Linked DNA regions of Homo sapiens: regions 2, 3 and 4 are each reported to be linked to region 1. Evidence: microRNA targets listed by miRTarBase, many of them from high-throughput screens and not tested one by one. Region 1 holds a microRNA gene; each other region holds the end of a gene's coding sequence.

Evidence for each region. The annotated mature microRNA hsa-miR-4277 reads GCAGUUCUGAGCACAGUACAC and lies in region 1 at 2,305-2,325, opposite strand. An mRNA with a match to its seed (bases 2 to 7 or 8) in the 3' UTR can be bound and repressed. Matches are read on the target gene's strand: a 7mer-m8 pairs with bases 2 to 8, a 7mer-A1 pairs with bases 2 to 7 and ends in A, and an 8mer does both.
Region 2: the mRNA of C1orf50 is a reported target of hsa-miR-4277. Seed matches in the 3' UTR shown: 7mer-m8 at 3,242-3,248 and 7mer-A1 at 2,504-2,510.
Region 3: the mRNA of ZNF592 is a reported target of hsa-miR-4277. Seed matches in the 3' UTR shown: 7mer-m8 at 1,692-1,698.
Region 4: the mRNA of SYT2 is a reported target of hsa-miR-4277. The part of its 3' UTR that is shown has no 7-base or 8-base seed match.

Annotation. Positions count from the first base shown.
Region 1 is chr5:1,706,534-1,710,914 of GRCh38, forward strand. It overlaps MIR4277 (microRNA 4277), which reads right to left and starts at 2,335; the gene lies at 2,252-2,335. All of the region lies in intron 3 of LOC105374614 (a long non-coding RNA gene), which reads right to left. RefSeq lists enhancers at 601-1,102, 1,103-1,602, 2,323-2,886, 2,887-3,451, 3,452-4,015 and a silencer at 2,204-2,359.
Region 2 is chr1:42,774,611-42,778,991 of GRCh38, reverse strand. It overlaps C1orf50 (chromosome 1 open reading frame 50), which reads right to left. Exons shown (of 5, transcript NM_024097.4): 4 at 4,124-4,255; 5 at 1-3,783. The coding sequence ends at 3,598. It overlaps TMEM269-DT (TMEM269 divergent transcript), which reads left to right. Exons shown (of 4, transcript NR_133055.2): 3 at 2,168-2,328; 4 at 2,823-3,179. Among named protein-coding and RNA genes, the nearest start is that of TMEM269-DT, 8.1 kb to the left of the region's middle.
Region 3 is chr15:84,802,068-84,806,448 of GRCh38, forward strand. It overlaps ZNF592 (zinc finger protein 592), which reads left to right. Exons shown (of 11, transcript NM_014630.3): 11 at 1-4,378. The coding sequence ends at 326. Among named protein-coding and RNA genes, the nearest start is that of ALPK3, 13 kb to the right of the region's middle. RefSeq lists enhancers at 1,575-2,076, 2,077-2,576.
Region 4 is chr1:202,592,802-202,597,182 of GRCh38, forward strand. It overlaps SYT2 (synaptotagmin 2), which reads right to left. Exons shown (of 9, transcript NM_177402.5): 9 at 1-4,162. The coding sequence ends at 3,956. Among named protein-coding and RNA genes, the nearest start is that of SYT2, 120 kb to the right of the region's middle.

The DNA of each region.
Region 1 (4,381 bases):
CCCCTTTGCAGTCTTGCAGTGTGTAACACAGGCTAACCCTGTTCATAATCTTAGCCTGTAATGCTGACTACAAATTGCCATTGCTTAGTCATTGTTAGCAGAACTCATGATGTGGAGAAGGAGCGGGAATCCCTTTCGATGGTGACGGACTGTTTCTCTGATGCTGACGATCTCTCCCCTGATACCGCCAAGAAATTGTCTACAGAGATCACTCAATCTCTCCTCGAAACTGTGGGTTTGCAAAATCACACATTGATTCACTTTAATAATTTCATAAGTGCAGAGTTGAGCACTAGGCTGTGGAAGACCCTCTGGGGAGTTATGGAATGCAGGTCTTGGACACTGGTTTCTGCCACCGTGCCTTGTGGAACAAGGGACCCCAGAGAGAGCCACAGGGCACTGGCCCTCAATGGGCCCACGTGTGCAAGAGGGAGACAGCCCCAACTGGGGTTAGCCACGTGCTCTGAGAGGCCTGGGGCATAGCCCTCTGTACTTCAGCATCAGTGAGAGATGAAGCCACAGGAGACCTTTTCTGCAGAGGGAGGGGCTGTGTGAGCTCAGAGGTCCAGGCAGTGCCTCCCTCCCACCCTGACTGCCTGCGCCAGCTCCCACCTGGACTGAAGGTGCTGCTTTTCTGCAGGTTCGCTGGTTAAGGACTGAGGAGGCAGCTGCACATCCTCTCCTCTGTCCGTGGTGTCATAGCAAATGGCTCTTCCTTTTTCTCACCGTGCAGTTGGTCTTGAGGTGAAGCTCAGAGCACAGGACACATTGTTTGAAACTGGTGAAGCCGTGTGTTGTACCAGGCAGCGAGAGAAGACATGTGGCCTTATTTCCCATGCGATGAGTTTTCAGAGTGATGTGAAGACGTGCCCTCTTACTGAGCACCACCTCTCAAATGGCCAAGGGCTCCCACGTGGTCCACTTGCAATGTGGGAGGTCATCCTAGCAGACGGCAAGGGAGGGGAGCTGGCTGCAAAGGTGGACAGTCAGGCTGGAAGGCCTGAGACCCGCAAGAGACCGCTCTGCTACGGGACAGGGGGCTGGTGTTTCTGGAGACAGTGTACTAACTCCGAGGGCCCAGGGAGGGCCGTGCTCCTGGGAGCCAGCCTCTGCAACCTGGCTTTCTGGGTGCCGTGGGACGGCGGGGCTGAGCCTGGCCTCTCCACACATGTGGCCAGCTGCCACTCCCCAGGGGTACAGGTGATGTGCAGTCTGCACACAGGGGCCCAGGGGCCTGTTGCCTTCCTGGACACCCCTGCTCCCATCTTGGGGCTGGTCAGCTCAGCCCAGAGCGCCTAGTACCTTCTGAAGTTATTTTCTCCTCTTTACCAGGAAGAAATGTTTGTAGTAAAAGAAACGGTGGCACATAATTTTGGAAAACAAAGGTATTTTGAGGGCTAATGCTTGTAGCTGGGTTTCCCAGATGCAAAGTTTGCACATTTTATTGTCATCCTTCCATGTTTTGTGCATACATGATCGAGAAGTGTGTGTGTGTGTGTGTGAGTGTGCATGTGTGGGATGCCAATGTGTACATGGTACAACTGTGTGTGCACAGGTGTGTGTTTTTGCCCTGAGTGTGTGCGGTGTGTGTGTTATGTGTATGTTATGTGTTGTGTTGTGGAATGCCCATGTGTGTTATGTGGTGTGTGTGCCTTGTGTGCAGGTGGCATGTCTGTGTGTGTTACATGCCTGTGTTGTGTGCCCATATCTATGTGATTGGTCACTGTTGTGTGTGTTGTGTGTGTCTGCACTGGGTACTCGCTATGTGTGTCGAGTTTATGTGCATGGTGCATCTCTCTGTGGAGCTTTGTGGGAATGAAGAATCAGGTTAATCTCCCAGCTCTCAATCAGAAAAGGACAACCAAAATTTGCAGTCGCACACAGAAGATGAATTTGTTAATGCCTGGCTGGACTTTCCACTCAGGTCTTAACCACCTGGAATGCTGAGGTGCAGCATATGTGATTGATGAAACAGGGACGAGGGTGGTTTCTGCTGAGCACTTCAGGCATGAAATCCAAACTCAGCAAAAGAGCCCCCTTTGCCAGCCCCCTGCTGCTGTCCCAACCCAATTGCTTGTCCCGCTCTCCTTGGAAGATGGCAGCCACACTTGAGTGGGATATCAGAGTGGCTGCTTTTCATCAGGAAGAGGCAGAGACAGGCTGAGTCAAGTGGAACCACTGCTGTCCCCCACTGTCAGGCGGCCCCTGCCCCCACTTGGAGCCCGCCCAGGGGCAGCTTTGTCTAGACATGGAGGGGCACAAGGACTTGAGCTGAGCAGGGCACTGGGCAGTGGGGGCAGCCCAGTGTACTGTGCTCAGAACTGCCTCGACCCAGAGCCAGACAAGTGACCGGGCAGTCACAGCCCCATCTCCTCCCTGCTAAGCACTGGCAGGACCCGCAGGGGAGGAGGAGGGAAGGCACTTCCTGCTGCCTGGACATTCCCCACTCTCAGGAGCAGCACAGACCTGGCCACTCCCATGAACAGAAAGTACCCCTGCAGTGTTGCCCTCCCACACCGTAGGCCACACACCTGGACATTCCACAACATATAACATACACATAACACACACACACACTGCACACACTCAGAGCAAAAACACACACCTATGCACCCACAGTGGTACCACATACACACTGGCATCCCACGGTGTCCCATCTGGCCACAATTGTCTCTCCCCTGTTAATGGCTCTCAGGACACTGCACATAGGGTAGCAAAGGGCAGTGACCCATGACAGATGACATGCAAGTGAGCTGAGCCCTGACGCTCTCCAGCTTCCTGCCTGAAGAGAATCTCTGAGCCATGACACAGGCAGAGGAGCCCAGGCACGGCCCACAGCCTGGCTGAACGCAGGAGACAGAGCCGAGAGTCTGTGGAGGTGAGAGAAAGTGACCTTTGCCCTACAGAGTCTTGCAGAAAAGAGACAGGCGTGGGGCACGAGCTCCTGGGATCCACAACAGGTCTGGGTGGAGCAGGCCACAGAGTGCTGCTCGGTGCACGAGAGAAAGACTCACGAAACGGGAAGGAGGCTCTGGGAAGGAGTAGAGGTCAATGCCCAGCACTCACACTGGGCCGGCCGCCTCTCCTGCCAGGCAAAGTTGAATACGCATTGGGTAGAGCACACAGGAGAGTGTTGCCTCGGTACTGGAGAATAATTCATCCTTAATTGCTCACCTCTCAGGTTCTGCCTAACAAAGCTTAAAAGCAAGATCCAAAAGGCTCAATCTTGTTTCAAAGAAACTCAACGTTGTCCTTGGACAACCCTCAAGAATATGTATAGAATCAGAGGAGCCAAGATGGCCCAATAGGAACAGCTCCGGTCTACAGCTCCCAGCGTGAGCGATGCAGAAGACGGGTGATTTCTGCATTTCCATCTGAGGTACCGGGTTCATCTCACTAGGGAGTGCCAGACAGTGGGCGCAGGTCAGTGTGTGTGCGCACCGTGCGCGAGCCGAAGCAGGGCGAGGCATTGCCTCACTCGGGAAGCGCAAGGGGTCAGGGAGTTCCCTTTCCCAGTCAAAGAAATGGGTTACAGACGGCACCTGGAAAATCGGGTCACTCCCACCCGAATACTGCGCTTTTCCGACGGGCTTAAAAAACGGCGCACCACGAGACTATCTCCCGCACCTCGCTCGGAGGGTCCTACGCCCACGGAGTCTCGCTGATTGCTAGCACAGCAGTCTGAGATCAAACTGCAAGGCGGCAGCGAGGCTGGGGGAGGGGCGCCCGCCATTGCCCGGGCTTGATTAGGTAAACTAAGCAGCCAGGAAGCTCCAACTGGGTGGAGCCCACCACAGCTCAAGGAGGCCTGCCTGCCTCCGTAGGCTCCACCTCTTGGGGCAGGGCACAGACAAACAAAAAGACAGCAGTAACCTCTGCAGACTTAAATGTCCCTGTCTGACAGCTTTGAAGAGAGCAGTGGTTCTCCCAGCACGCAGCTGGAGATCTGAGAACGGGCAGACTGCCTCCTCAAGTGGGTCCCTGACCCCTGACCCTGGAGCAGCCTAACTGGGAGGCACCCCCCAGCAGGGGCACACTGACACCTCACACGGCAGGGTATTCCAACAGACCTGCAGCTGAGGGTCCTGTCTGTTAGAAGGAAAACTAACAAACATAAAGGACATCCACACCGAAAACCCATCTGTACACCACCATCATCAAAGACCAAAAGTAGATAAAACGACAAAGATGGGGAAAAAACAGAACAGAAAAACTGGAAACTCTAAAAAGCAGAGCGCCTCTCCTCCTCCAAAGGAATGCAGTTCCTCACCAGCAACGGAACAAAGCTGGATGGAGAATGACTTTGACGAGCTGAGAGAAGAAGGCTTCAGACGATCAAATTACTCTGAGCTACGGGAGGACATTCAAACCAAAGGCAAAG
Region 2 (4,381 bases), not on the chromosome of region 1:
GGGGGGGGGGGGGGGGGAAGTACACCTTGTAATTGGTGAAATACAGGCCCTCTCATTCTACTACTGCTTAATTCAGACTCCCATCATCCCTTGCCTTGATTAGGGATGGAATCTCCTGTCTTCCCTCTACCCAAACTCTGCTGCCAATATTACCAGCCTCCCCAAATCCTTCCATTAGTTCTTCTCTCATATTCCCCAGTCCATATTCTCCTGTTTAACTGGCTGCGATTCCCCAAATGTCGTGTCAATTCTGGTCAATGTCCCTTCCATGTTATTTTTTGTCTGGAATGTTTTTTCCTCCCTGTCTTCAACTATCTCCTAGCTTTTAAACACAAGGATTTTCTAGCCAGGACATATCTCACTCCACCCCTCCTCATTGCCAGGACTGCTTTGGTTGATATGGCTTAAATGGTTGTCACTTTCTTCATTCACAAATAAACTCCATCCAAAAATGAACCCTACCCCAACCCCCAAAAGACAAACTTCCTATGAAAGGGCAATTGGAGCCTCCAGAAAGTTCTAACTTGTATGGTTTTCAACACCAAGCAGGCATCAGCTCCTCCAAGTGTCTTCCCAAATTCTCCAAGCTCAGTAAGGAACCCCTCCCCGGAGCTCCATAGTATTCCATGCGTACCTCTATCACACCCCTTCTTAGAGCATCTTGTAATTGTTAACTTGTTTCCTTCCCTACTATACTGTGAGCTCCCTGGAAATTGTGATTTCTTATTCAGCTCCATTATTCACCAGAACCTGGAACCTAGAAGGCACTTAACACTAATGAAATTATCAGGTGAACAGATGGATGGGTAAATGAAAAGTGATTACTGTATATAATCACTGGGTCCTAGTTTCCCATTCTGAGGTGCCCCAAATCACCTCACATTGCCACTAGCCCTTCCCAAGTGTGGTAACTGGCTTAACCAGGAAAGAGCAATGACACCCCTTGGTGGTCAGTGCAGGGAGTACATCTTACTGAACAGAAGGCAGTTTCTCTCTTTTCAATCACTACTCTCCCACTCTTTAGGTTAGGAAATGTCAAGAGTGAGGGAGATTTGGCATTTTCAAATGATCAAGCTGATGACTGCATGCAGAATGGATTGGAGAGGGGACAGAGGGGGAAGCAGGGATGCCAGCTGGGAGGCTGTCTTGTCAGAGTTGACAGTCAAGTGCAGATCTGTGACTTTGACATCATCACACTTAACCACTTAGTAATATTGCCTTTTTTACCTAGAATTTTCCTTTCTTCTTCTCAACTGAGCACTGTGGCAGATAGATTCTAGGATCTGTTCAATGATTCAATGATGTCTGCCTTCTGGTATACATGCCTTTGTATAACTCCCTCCCTTGAATATGGGCTAGCCTAGTGACTTGCTTCCAACCAAAAGATTACGGCAAAGGTGATGAAATGTCACTTCTGTGATCAGACTACATGAGACTGTAACTTCCATCTGGCTAGCAGACTCTAATCCTTGTTTACTTTGCTTAAGAAAGCTGCCATGTTATAGAGGCTCGTGTGGCAAGGAAGTGAGGGCAACCTCCAGCCAACAGTCAGCTAGTGGAACCCCGGAAGCCAGCAACCCTTGTGGAATTGAAATTCTGCCAACAGGCCAGGTATGGTGGCTCAAACGCCAGCACTGTGGGAGGCTGAGGCAGGTGGATCATGAGGTCAAGAGATAGAGACCCTCCTGGCCAACATGGTGAAACCCTGTCTCTACTAAAAATAAAAAAATTAGCTGGGCATGGTGGCGTGCGCCTGTAATCTCAGCTACTGAGGAGGCTGAGGCAGGAGAATCACTTGAACCAGGAGGCGGAGGTTGCGGTAAGCTGAGATTGAGCCACTGTACTCAGGCCTGGCAATACAGCGAGACTCTGTCTCAAAAAAAAAGAAAGGAAAGAAAAGAAATTCTGCTAACAATTTAAGTGAGCTTGGAAGCAGATCCTTCCCCACTCAGGCCTTCAGATAAGAACAGCCCTGACCAATAACTTGATTTCAGCCTTCCAGGGTTTCAGAGAAACTGTGAAGCAGAGGACTCAATGAAATGGTGCCTGAACTCCTAACCTGTAAGCTCTGAAATAAATAGGTGTTGCTTTAAACCATTAAGTTTGCAGTAATTTGTTTATCTGTAACTAATAAAGCACCTATTCAAAATGTGTCATCATCATGCAGGTCAGAACCTTCTGAAAACCTGGGAAACTTTCTGTAGTCAGAATCCACTACTCTACCACTAATGTCTCTTCCATCCGGCTCTGCAGCACCTGAGCAAAAGACCTCTGCAGCTGAGTCCAAAGAGCATTCCCATGTGAACCGAGCAACCAAGTATCATCGGAGTGAGTTTGTTAGATTCTAGCCCCATCCTGTGCTAGGCCTTAGGTAGACCTCTTACAGCTCACAAGAAATGCAGTTTATGAGGAAAGACCATGAATCGGGGGGCGGCCCGGGGAGGGTATTACCAAACAGATCAGCATCAGGAACATCATTCCCAGAGAGAAATTTGGCCAATTGTCAGTTCAAGTACACATCTCTCCCTCCTTTTACAGCATATTGCAATAGATTATAGCCATGCGAAATAATCCATAAACTTAGCTAATTCCACCAAACAGATAGGAAAGAAGGTAGAGTCCTACAAGAGCCTAGTCAGAATAAGAACTACAGTAATTTTGCCAAAACCCTGTTAAGTTCTTGAATAATTCTGGTCAAAATGGATTTCAATCTGAGTTAACTCACAGTCAACAATTTGGCTGTTTTTCTTGCTTCTCACTCTACTGCCTTACTCTCTTCCACAGTGTTAAGTAGCCATTTAAATGGGTTTGTTCTGCTGCAGGTGGCTGAGCCTGGGATTTCCAACTTGGGAGACTACACAGTGGACTCTATAATGATTAGTGGCAGCATCCAATGTCTCTTCCAAGTCTAAAATTTGTGAGTTTCAAAGTTGACTCTCCCCAAACCTGGCCTTTGCTGCCTCAGATTCTGTCACTCTAGCAAGGCAGAGAGAGCAAAAGGGGCAAGACAAACCTCATCAACAGCACAGAAATCCCAGAATCACACACTCTCTGGTCCAGCCAAGCCAAGTGTTTTTTTTTTTGTTGTTGTTGTTGTTTTTTAAATCACCCTCCATTACTCAACATTCTCGTTCCCAGATGAATTTTAAACTGGAGTTGCACCAACTGTGAGACAGCCTCAACCCCAATGTTAAATACTACCAGTTATATATATATATATATATATATAAAAGACTGAAAACAGTTCTCTCTGGAAAACGATCCACCAACCTTTTTATGGGAAGAAGGTCTTCTCTAACACTTTAACTTAAGGGAAGAAGTGATGGAGAGGAAGAAGGAAAGTACACTGGCCAATACTCTGAAACTGACTGACTTGGGTATCTGTGGTCCAAAGAGGATCCCGAAAGACAGTGACTCTGTCTCAATGATTATTCCCATCCCAATTAAAAGTCATAATGACAGCATTTACATTCACACAGGGTCTCTTTCCAAGAAGTTTGTGAGTCACCTACATGTCTTCAATTCTCAAGGCAACAGTGGGGGCAACAAGGAGGTTGACAGCCAGGTCCTGTGAGAGCTGTTTGTCAAAGCCCACTCTCAGTGAGTCAGTCCCTGGAAGTTGGGTTCAGTGCACGGAGGCAGGGCCACTGACTGGCTTAGCAACGTGTCCATCATGCTGATTTTAGCATCTTGCTTCTCAATGTCCTCATACGGAGTCCAGGACAAGTCATGCTGTAGTTTGTAGGCACCAAGGAAGTCATGTGGACAACTTGTCCCCCATTCCTAGAGAAGGCAAAGGAGGCAGTTCCCATCAGCGTGGGTTGTAAACAAACTGAGCTCATTTCCTAATCATGCCACAATCTCTTTTTTGGCTTTTCACTTCATACTAGTCAGAACAACCTTTGGAACGCAGTTACCTTACACATCAGATCCCTCCCTTAATGAAGAAAATGAGTGAAATAATTTAAGCACAGGTATATTTTTTAGAGTCATGTCTGGGCTCACATCACCCCCAATTTTCTAAGAAACCATATACCAATCCACATGTCTACATTTTCACACATATACCAAGAATTTCTCAGAGGCTGGAGTAGATTTTTGGGCAAACAATGTATGTTCTTACCTTTGGAGAAATGATGGAAAAATACTGCTGACCACTCTCCCGTTTATAGAGATAGTAAATGTTGCCAGGTTTTTTCACTATATTACAAGCTACATGGTGCAGGTTGGCATCTCTGTGAGCATCTTCCAGTACCTATGAATCACAGATATGTAACAAATTAGGTATTGGAGATAACAGGCACCCACATTTGGTGATCATCCCAATTAAAATTTGGAAACCATTCAGTGCTTAGGATCTTGCTCCCCCATAGCAATGAAT
Region 3 (4,381 bases), not on the chromosome of region 1:
TGTGCTACACCTCTGCCAGCTCCCTCAGCCGCCACCTCTTCATTGTCCACAAGGTGAGAGACCAGGAGGAGGAGGAGGAAGAGGAGGCGGCGGCAGCGGAGATGGCAGTGGAGGTGGCAGAGCCAGAGGAGGGCTCCGGGGAGGAGGTGCCCATGGAGACTAGAGAGAATGGACTGGAAGAATGTGCCGGTGAGCCTTTGTCAGCTGACCCAGAGGCGAGGAGATTGCTGGGCCCGGCCCCTGAGGACGATGGTGGCCACAATGATCACAGTCAACCACAGGCCTCTCAGGACCAGGACAGCCACACACTGTCCCCTCAGGTGTGACCGGAGACTTTGCAGTGTGCATGGTCAGGGGTGGTGCCGAAGTGTCTTCCACCTGCCCTGCGGACCGTGGAAAATAAAAGGCTCTGCCCCCAGTGTGAGTGTGACCGGTTGTACCCTGGAGTAGTGTCTGCCCTGAGCTGCCAGTGCTGGGTATCCCCCAGCCCCAGGAAATGTGGGGTCGGCCAGGACCCTCACAGCTCTGAATTTGCTTCTGTTATTTATGGCTTTTCGCTGCTTCTTGGTGCCCCATCTCTTGTCTGTGTCCTTCCAACCCCAAGCTGCTTATGTGGCCCAACCCCACTGCTGTCAACTAGGCTTGAACCCCACAGCGGCTGTGCTCTTCTGGGAGGTTCCCGCTTGCTGCCTTCAGCCAGGGCGCTCCTCAGAGCTCTATTTTCCTGCAGACACCAGCTCTCCTTCCTGCCTTTAGATCCTGAGAAGGAGGGAAATGAGGGGTGCTGACACAGTCCCTCTGGGAGAGCTCTGCCTAGTCTGGTTTGGCGAGGGCCCTTGATCACCTTGCCCCTCCTCCCTGTCTTCTCTGATTCTTTTCCCTCAAAATAGTCCTGAGAACTAATTGTCACACTGGCTCATCATGTCTCTGTGGGTGGGGTGGGAGAAACCTCTGCTGCACACCTCTGTTTGGAACCTGGGCAGAGCAGGAGGTAAGGCAAAGGCAGGCAGGCACCAAGAACCAGACCCCTTGAGAAGGCGCTGTGGGTGGGTCTTTGTTCTGCTGTTCTGCCTTTCCTGACAGGTGGGGTTGGGGCACACAGACATTGGAATATTTGTACTGCTCTCGTGCCATTTGAGAGGCTGCTGCCCCAGGCAGGCCAGCCCCTACTCCTCTTGGCTACACTCATGTTGCTCAGACTATATTTCAAATAAAAAATCTTCTCACCATGCAGGTAGGCTCTTGTATTCCTCTCCAAGTGAGCCTGGCCCCACCCTATTCCACCCAAGGGTCTTTCCCAGACTTCCCCTGTTTGTCCCATCTCTGAGGGAGAACAATACTTCCTACTGTCTAAGGAAGGCCTTCTCTAGATTCTGGAGCTTGTGGTTAGGAAACCGGGAGCCCTGTACTACTTAGTTCTCTAGAGACCTTCTGAAGGGGTGAGGGGAGCGGCTCCACAATGGTCAAGTCACCTCCAAGATCTCCAGGCTAGTGACATTGGCTTTAGGGCGTATCGAAATTTTCTAGGCACCTTCATCTTTCCTTCAGTTGATTTTCAACATAAGAGAACCCCTTACTGGTAAAAAGGGAAAAGGGGGTGGAGAAGAGGAATTTTATAATTTTCTTATAGCATTCAAGAGGTTTCTTATTTCTTACAGCATCGCTACTGCCACAGAGAACTCAAATGTGGCAGAACTGGGATTAGACTTGGGAGACTGGCTGTCTTTTCACTGATGGTGGAGTCAGGGCCCACCCAAGCACGAGGAGCAGGCTGTGTGGAGGTGTCGTCTGACCTCTAACCCAGGTGGCATGGGGTTGCGCCCAGCAGGATGTAGTGGAGTAAAGGGAAGAGGGTGCTGGCCGGGTGCTTAGAGGTCATCTTTCAAGGAGGCATTAAATATCAATTATAAATTATTAAGTCAGATAAATATGCCTGACCTTTTCACAGTTGAAAAAATACATTTTTTCCCCTCTATCAAATGCCAAGTTTTTAGTGGAAATGCTAATGGCAGTGGGAAAGGTTGCCTCACTTTCAGAGAGACTCTCGCTGTCTGCACCCTTTTAATAATTGCTCTTCCTGGCAAGGCTGCCACTTCCCTGCCTCCCCAGCTGGCAGTGGGGCAACCCAGGCCTGTTTCCAGCTACCTGCAAAGCCAGACCTAGACCTGCCGTAGCTGTTGTCCCATGCCTAATTCTAGTTACAGGAAGCCATCCCTGTACCCTGGGTCCATTCACAGGAATGGGTTCCAGAGGAGGCTGATAGAAGGGTTTGAAATGACTGGCTGGATCCCTTCCTGCTCAGACACAGTGGTAGCTGGAGAGCAGGCAGAGATGGTAGAATTGCAGGTTTGACCACCTGTCGTGACCCCAGATATACATCTCCTTCCTGGGAAGAACGTGAGTTGGAAAAATGCTGAGCCAGTCCCTGGAAAACCTGGGTCCTGGCCTGGATTCTGTCCTTAGCCAGCTCTTAACAAATCCCTTAACCTCACTGTCTCCTCTCCTTCACAATAGAGTTAGTAATTCCCATCCAACTGGCTTCACAGGCTTTTGTGAGCTTATGAATGTGAAAGTATTTTCTAGTTTATAAAACACTATATGAATGTGGGGAAATCTTTACTTGACCTTAGGGCATGGAGGGTGGAGCACATTTTGTCTGCTGTTTGGACTTGGATGCTGATTAGCAGTTATGAAGTGGCCCAGACACCTAGCCATTCTTTAGTAAGAGTGAAGATAGCATTTTAAGCCCTCCTTGTGTGCCTAGCATCTTACTGAACACTTTCTGGTGATTCTCTCCTTTAATCCTCACAAAGATCTCACAGTTGTCCTCCATTTTACGGAGAAGAAACCGAGGCTCCGAGAGGTTAAACGATGTGCAGAGGCTACCTGTAGTGATGGTGCTGAGTCAAGCCTGTCAACCACTGTGCTCGTTAGTGACCAAGGCTGCTTTGACAGGCTGCCAGCTTGTCAGTGGTTTGCAGCCCCCCAGACATTTGCTTTCCTACTTCCCATGCAGTTGGGGTGCCCTGCCAAGTGCCAGGTTCTCTTTGGAGTCCATCTGTGCCTTGTCACCCCAAGGAGGGCCTCGAGCATCACACCGTTGACATTTCGAAACGTGGTATCTCTACAACCTTTCATTCTCATTGGGATTTACCTTGCCATTTGAACACCATCATTTTTTGAGGACTGTCTAGAAAAGGTTGCCTAACCCTCACAGGGAACACACAGTTCCCTCAGAGTCCAGCATCTTCTGGTCTTTTCTTTTTCAAGATTTTTTTAAATGGTTGTGCTATCATTTGTCATCATCAGAAAATGCTTGCTGTAACAAGCGTTTATCTGCACATTATGCTGCAGTGAATGCTCTACTGATCAAGTTAAACAGATAAGATCCCTTCCCTTGTAGAAACTACAACTTAATACAGTCTAAGACTTGACAAATTACTTAGTATTTATTTTCCAACTGCTTTATCTCTGTAAAATGATATGCTGAATTATTATAAGCTAATTGTTGTAGAAAGAACTTTCCCCTTAACTTATGTAAACAGTCTGGTTTTAAAAAATTTGATAATTGTGGCCCAGTAAGCTCAACACTTTGCCTTCCCCAAGACTGGGGAACCTCTGTCCTGTTCACCACTGTATATTCAGCACCAGGCAGTTTCTTTTTTTGTTTGTTTGTTTTTTTGTTTTGAAAAATTAATACATATACATGGTAAGACATTCCACAATACAAAAGGGTATACAATAAATGGTAAGCTTCCCCATGGAGGTCAGCCTCTAGTCCCCTCTCCAGAGTTAATCACTGTTATCTATATGTTGTGTATCCTTTCATAGCAATTCTATGCATTTACAAGTTTATAAATATGTATATTTATATATCTATTTTTAATACAAATAGTAGAATTCTATACACAGTGTTCTGAAGCTTGCTTTCTTATATAGTATTTTGGAGATTATTCCAAATTCATACATTGGGTCAGAGTAATTCTTTAAAAGTTCCTTGCATATAACAGTGATTCAAAAAGTATATGGATGAATGAGTGAATGCTGCATGAATGAATGAATCTGATTCAATTGGTAGCTACAGCTGTTCTCTCAGGGTCTGATCTGACCAAGACAGCACCTTCTAGATTCTAGAATGTGTCCTCCTGACTAAGGGGTTCAGGATACTGTTCACCTTCTCCAACAGATGCCACCGGAGCCTTAGGAACTGGGCACAGGAAGCCTTGGGCCCCTGGAGGAAAAAGTTGAGACTAGGACGCAGGTCCCAAGTATGGGATTTTTTTGGGTTCCTACTTAAAATGCTTTTTTCTTTATTGGAAAATGATGTAACATTTTAGAGAAATTAAAAAGCACACATATTTATAATCTCTTCCTCTTACCA
Region 4 (4,381 bases), not on the chromosome of region 1:
TCATAGGGTAGGGTTCCCAGACACAATGCAGGATGACCAGTTACATTTGAATTTCAGATAAACAACAAATTATTTTTTAGTATATGTCCCAACTATTTGCCTAGGACATATTTACACTTAATAATTGTTTGTTGTTGAACTGAAATTCAAATGTAACTGGACATCCTGTATTTTTATTTGCCAAATCTGGCAACCATAGCATGGGGCTCAGGGCCACCAGGATCTTGGGACTCCTCCCTGCCTGCCACCACCCAGGGCTCTGAGAAAGGGCCCCAAACAGCTTTAGGTGGGAGGGGCAGAGGAAAGGGAAGGGAAGGGGCAGAGCAGAGGATATGAGGGCAGTTCCTGGCTCAATCTCTTTCTACCTTTGAGTGGGAGGGGACACCCTCAGGGACAGTTTTTCTCTCTGTGAGGCTGGGTGAGACCCAGGACTCAGATGCCTTATGAATTAACCTAGGACATTAAGGGAACATGGAAGCTCTCACTCCCCAAACCCAGGGAGGTTCCTCAACCTCTTTGCTGTCACCCACCCTTACCCCCACCCCACTGCATGGAGGCAGGTTTATAAGAGAGCTGCTTTTACCCACAGGAGGGCTGTAGTGACCTCTCTTCTCCCTCTCGCTGAAGCCTTGGGCCAGCAAAATCATCCCACACTGATTCTGCAGACACAAGTTATGTATGCTTTCCTAGGAAGAAAAAAGATCAGGATCTGAGACTGTGGCCTAATCCCTGCTATCTCATCCTCTACTGAGGGACTCCAGGAAAGTCACTTCTCATTCATGCCAAGCACCTGCCTACTGTCTGAGATTGCCCCAGCATTCCTTACCCAGCCTTCCCCAGGCCTCAGCTTCCACTTCCAAAGCCCAAAAATCTGCCTGTAGCTCTGGCAGAGTTAGCATCCCTTCTGGAACAATTATTCAGGGAGGAAGAAGAAAACGAACTTTCAGACTTTACCCCAGTTTCTGGATGGGATTAGGCTTGTTTTCATGGTCTCAGCTTCTCTAAAAATCACCTCTATACTACTTTCCTTTCTCTGGAACAGACTTTGAGATGAAAACTCACAGCCCCAGAGGCGTCCAGAACCCCTTACTAGCCAGACACCCTAACTCTATCCTGCTTAGTGCCTACACCCCAGTACCCTGACATCCCCAGAAATAAACCTGCCCAGCAGTGAGTGTTTGGCATGATGCCCTGTGGTTTAAGCTACGTCAGCCCTCAGGTATGGAAAACACACAAGCAGAAGCATGTTCCCACCAAGCCCATGGACCAAGACAGATGCCATCCACTACGTGGCATATCAGGACCAGCTGGGACCTGAGGAAGGCACTGCTCCCCACACCCACACTGGCTCCACACTGGTGTCAACGTTCAAAATCACTCAGCAACCTGTCCCCACCCCTCAAGGCTCCTCACTAGCAGTGGGCTCAGAGTAATAAAAATCCAGCCCTGGTCACCAGGCACATAGACACCCAGACCACCAGAGGTTCCTACCATTGCCTTTCCTCCCTGTCAAGGGAATGCAAATCTTGGGCTTTGGAAGGGCTGAATGAAGTTCATGAATGGAAAAGAATCCAGGTGGTAGAAGATGAATTGGGAAAGGGCAAAGGAGTAAAGGTAGAGGGGATATTGACAAGGGGGTCTCCATGAGTGAGTCTGTGGGATATGGGTGAGAAGAGTGAGTCTGGGGAGAGACCCTGAGAAAGCACCAAAATCCCATAACTCTGGGGTTGGGAGAAGAGTCCAGTGACTTCTGATGTCCATACCAGGAAATCCCACTCTGTGGCCACCCAGATTCTGAAAACACCCTATTGTCCTACAACTCTCTACCATGACCACACCTTTGGTCCCAAGGACCGCAGTTCATAATCCTGATCAGAGTCTTACCTTCCCATCATTAAGTACACACACACACACACACACACACACCAGTAAAAACATAACTTCCCATGTACCACTAACAAGACAAAGAAGGATCTCCAAGAGACAGGCAGGCTTTCCAGTCTGTTTCTGGTGGGGGTATTCCCTCATTTCCCTCACTCCTTCATCCAAAAAACAAAGCAAAACCAAAAGCCCCTTCCCCCTTTTTAAAATAAAATAAAAAGACACTCTGCAACTTCTTCACACTGGATCCTCAAAGCCTGATTCCCTCCAACACTGTCCATCTGTCTTGGGTGTCTACAGGAAGCTGAAGTGGCCCAGATGGGGCAGGATAGAGATGCTGCCATTTGTGCTGGGAAAGAGAGATACTCAGGCTTCTGGAGAAGCCATGAGTTTTCTGTGGTGAAAAAATGGCAAGGGCCTGAGGGCTTCATGGATGGAAAAGAGAGGTCAAAGGAAGGCAGGCAAGGAGGGCTGGCCTCTGGCCACAAGGGGACCTCACTCTGTTGTCCAGGCTGAAGGATTGGAAGAAGACTCAGTGCAAACCTGACTAACATATATATGGCTTTTATATCAGTGCTGGGGACAAAAGGTGAACAGGGAATGGGATACAACTGAGCATGGGTAGAAACCCTAGAAGGTCACCTCTGCTACTCATTTGGAATGGATGCCCTTTGTTTCTTAGCATTCATAGAGAGAAGCCCCCTAATGGTAGGACGGGTCCTTCCCATAGGTCTCCCTGGGCCACTCCAGCTACCTATCAGCTCTCCAGCATGGAGGGCAGAGGGCCAAGGGAGCAAGGAGTGGGAGTCGGGGGAATTCCAGTGCTCCCCTATATCTCCTCCCAAGGGATCTCAGCCATCTGTCCCCCATCCTCTTCTTACCACCCCCTTCTTACCTGGACCTCAGGAGAACTAAGAACATTTAAACTTTCCTTTTAAAGTTCTCTGGCTCTGCACAGATAACGTGTCTTCAGACAGTGTTGCTCCACTTAAAAGAGAAACAGAAGCAAAAGCACAATGGGGAATAAATGCAAATGAACTTGGCTGCTTATATTCTGGAAAGGGAGAAAGCATCTGTGTTTCCCACTGGATGGGGTGAAGATCCAGGAGTTTAATTTTGGTCTTTCTGGTAATGGGACTTCTGTTTCTTCATAGTTTGATATTTATTGTCAATAAGAGTGAGATTTTGGGACTGAGAGTCCCTGTTAGTCTGACCCAACTAGTGAATAGCTCATATCCATGAATGTCCCAGGAACTACACTTCTGGGGAAACCATGACTGGCAGGAGGAAGTATTTGATGGCATCGTTTGGTCCTAGTTCTGAACACATCCAGTCTTCACATCTTGCTGCCTCCCAAATAGCCACCAACAGGAGTATGAAAGCCCCGATATCTGAACAGGATCCTGAGACTTTGCCATAGATGAGAGAAGATCTCCCACTTAGTGGACTTCTTCATGTCAGGGTCCCCAAAGAGCCTTCTTTTCCCACACAACTTTACTGTCCATGGCTCATTCCAGGAATGAAGAGAGATGCTCAAAGAGACACACACACACACACATTCCAGGAATGAAGAGAAATGCTCAAAGACACACACACACACACACACACACACACACACACACACATACACACACACACACACACACACACACACGATCATTGGCCACTGTGATGCCTTCCCTGTCAGGAAGCAGGATGTGCTGCCATTTTGTTGGTCCAGAAGGCTCAAAAAACAGGAACTGCTGCAAGTTTGTGCCAGTAGAGAGCCTCGCTTGGGGTGAGGCAGATGTGAAGCTTTGAAAGAGTCGAGGGAACTGTGACAGGGCATGCAGCAAGGACAGCTCCTGGGACCGTGAACAGAGCCAGGCTTCTCTTTCACCTCTTAGGGGACTCTCCTCACACAGCCATCAAAGGGAAGTTGGTCTTTAAAAAGAGAAAAACAAGGAAAAACAAGGACACAACCACCCAACAAATGAAAGAAAAAAGAAAACCTCTAAGGTTGCATAACTGAGGTATTGATAGCTCTGGATCTTGTCAGTGTCCGTGAAAGGTGTGGGGTCCCAGCCGCTGCTGTCTACTTGTTCTTGCCCAGGAGTGCATCCACCTCCTCCTCAGGCTTGAGCGAGTGCCACTGGGCGATGGGCCTCCGGGGGTTGGCCAGCATGTCGGACCAGTGCCGCAGCTCTGTGCCCGTGGCATTGCTGCCCACGAAGATCTTGCCTATGGCTTCGTTCTTGCCCAGCTTGTCATAGTCCAGCACGGTGACCACTACCTGGACTTTCTGCAAGGAAAACGAGGGAGGGAGTTGGCAGACAGAGACGTGGGATCCCATGACCAAATTTATCCTCCATCAACCTCTACTCCCAATGATTGGGAAGGTAAGGCCTCCTGGGGCTCCTTGGTTTCATCTCTGCTCCAGTGAAGACTGAATTGACATGGAGGCAGAGGCCACGCCTTTGGCAGCCTTTGTTTCTACCACTGGGCATTTATTGAGGATGTA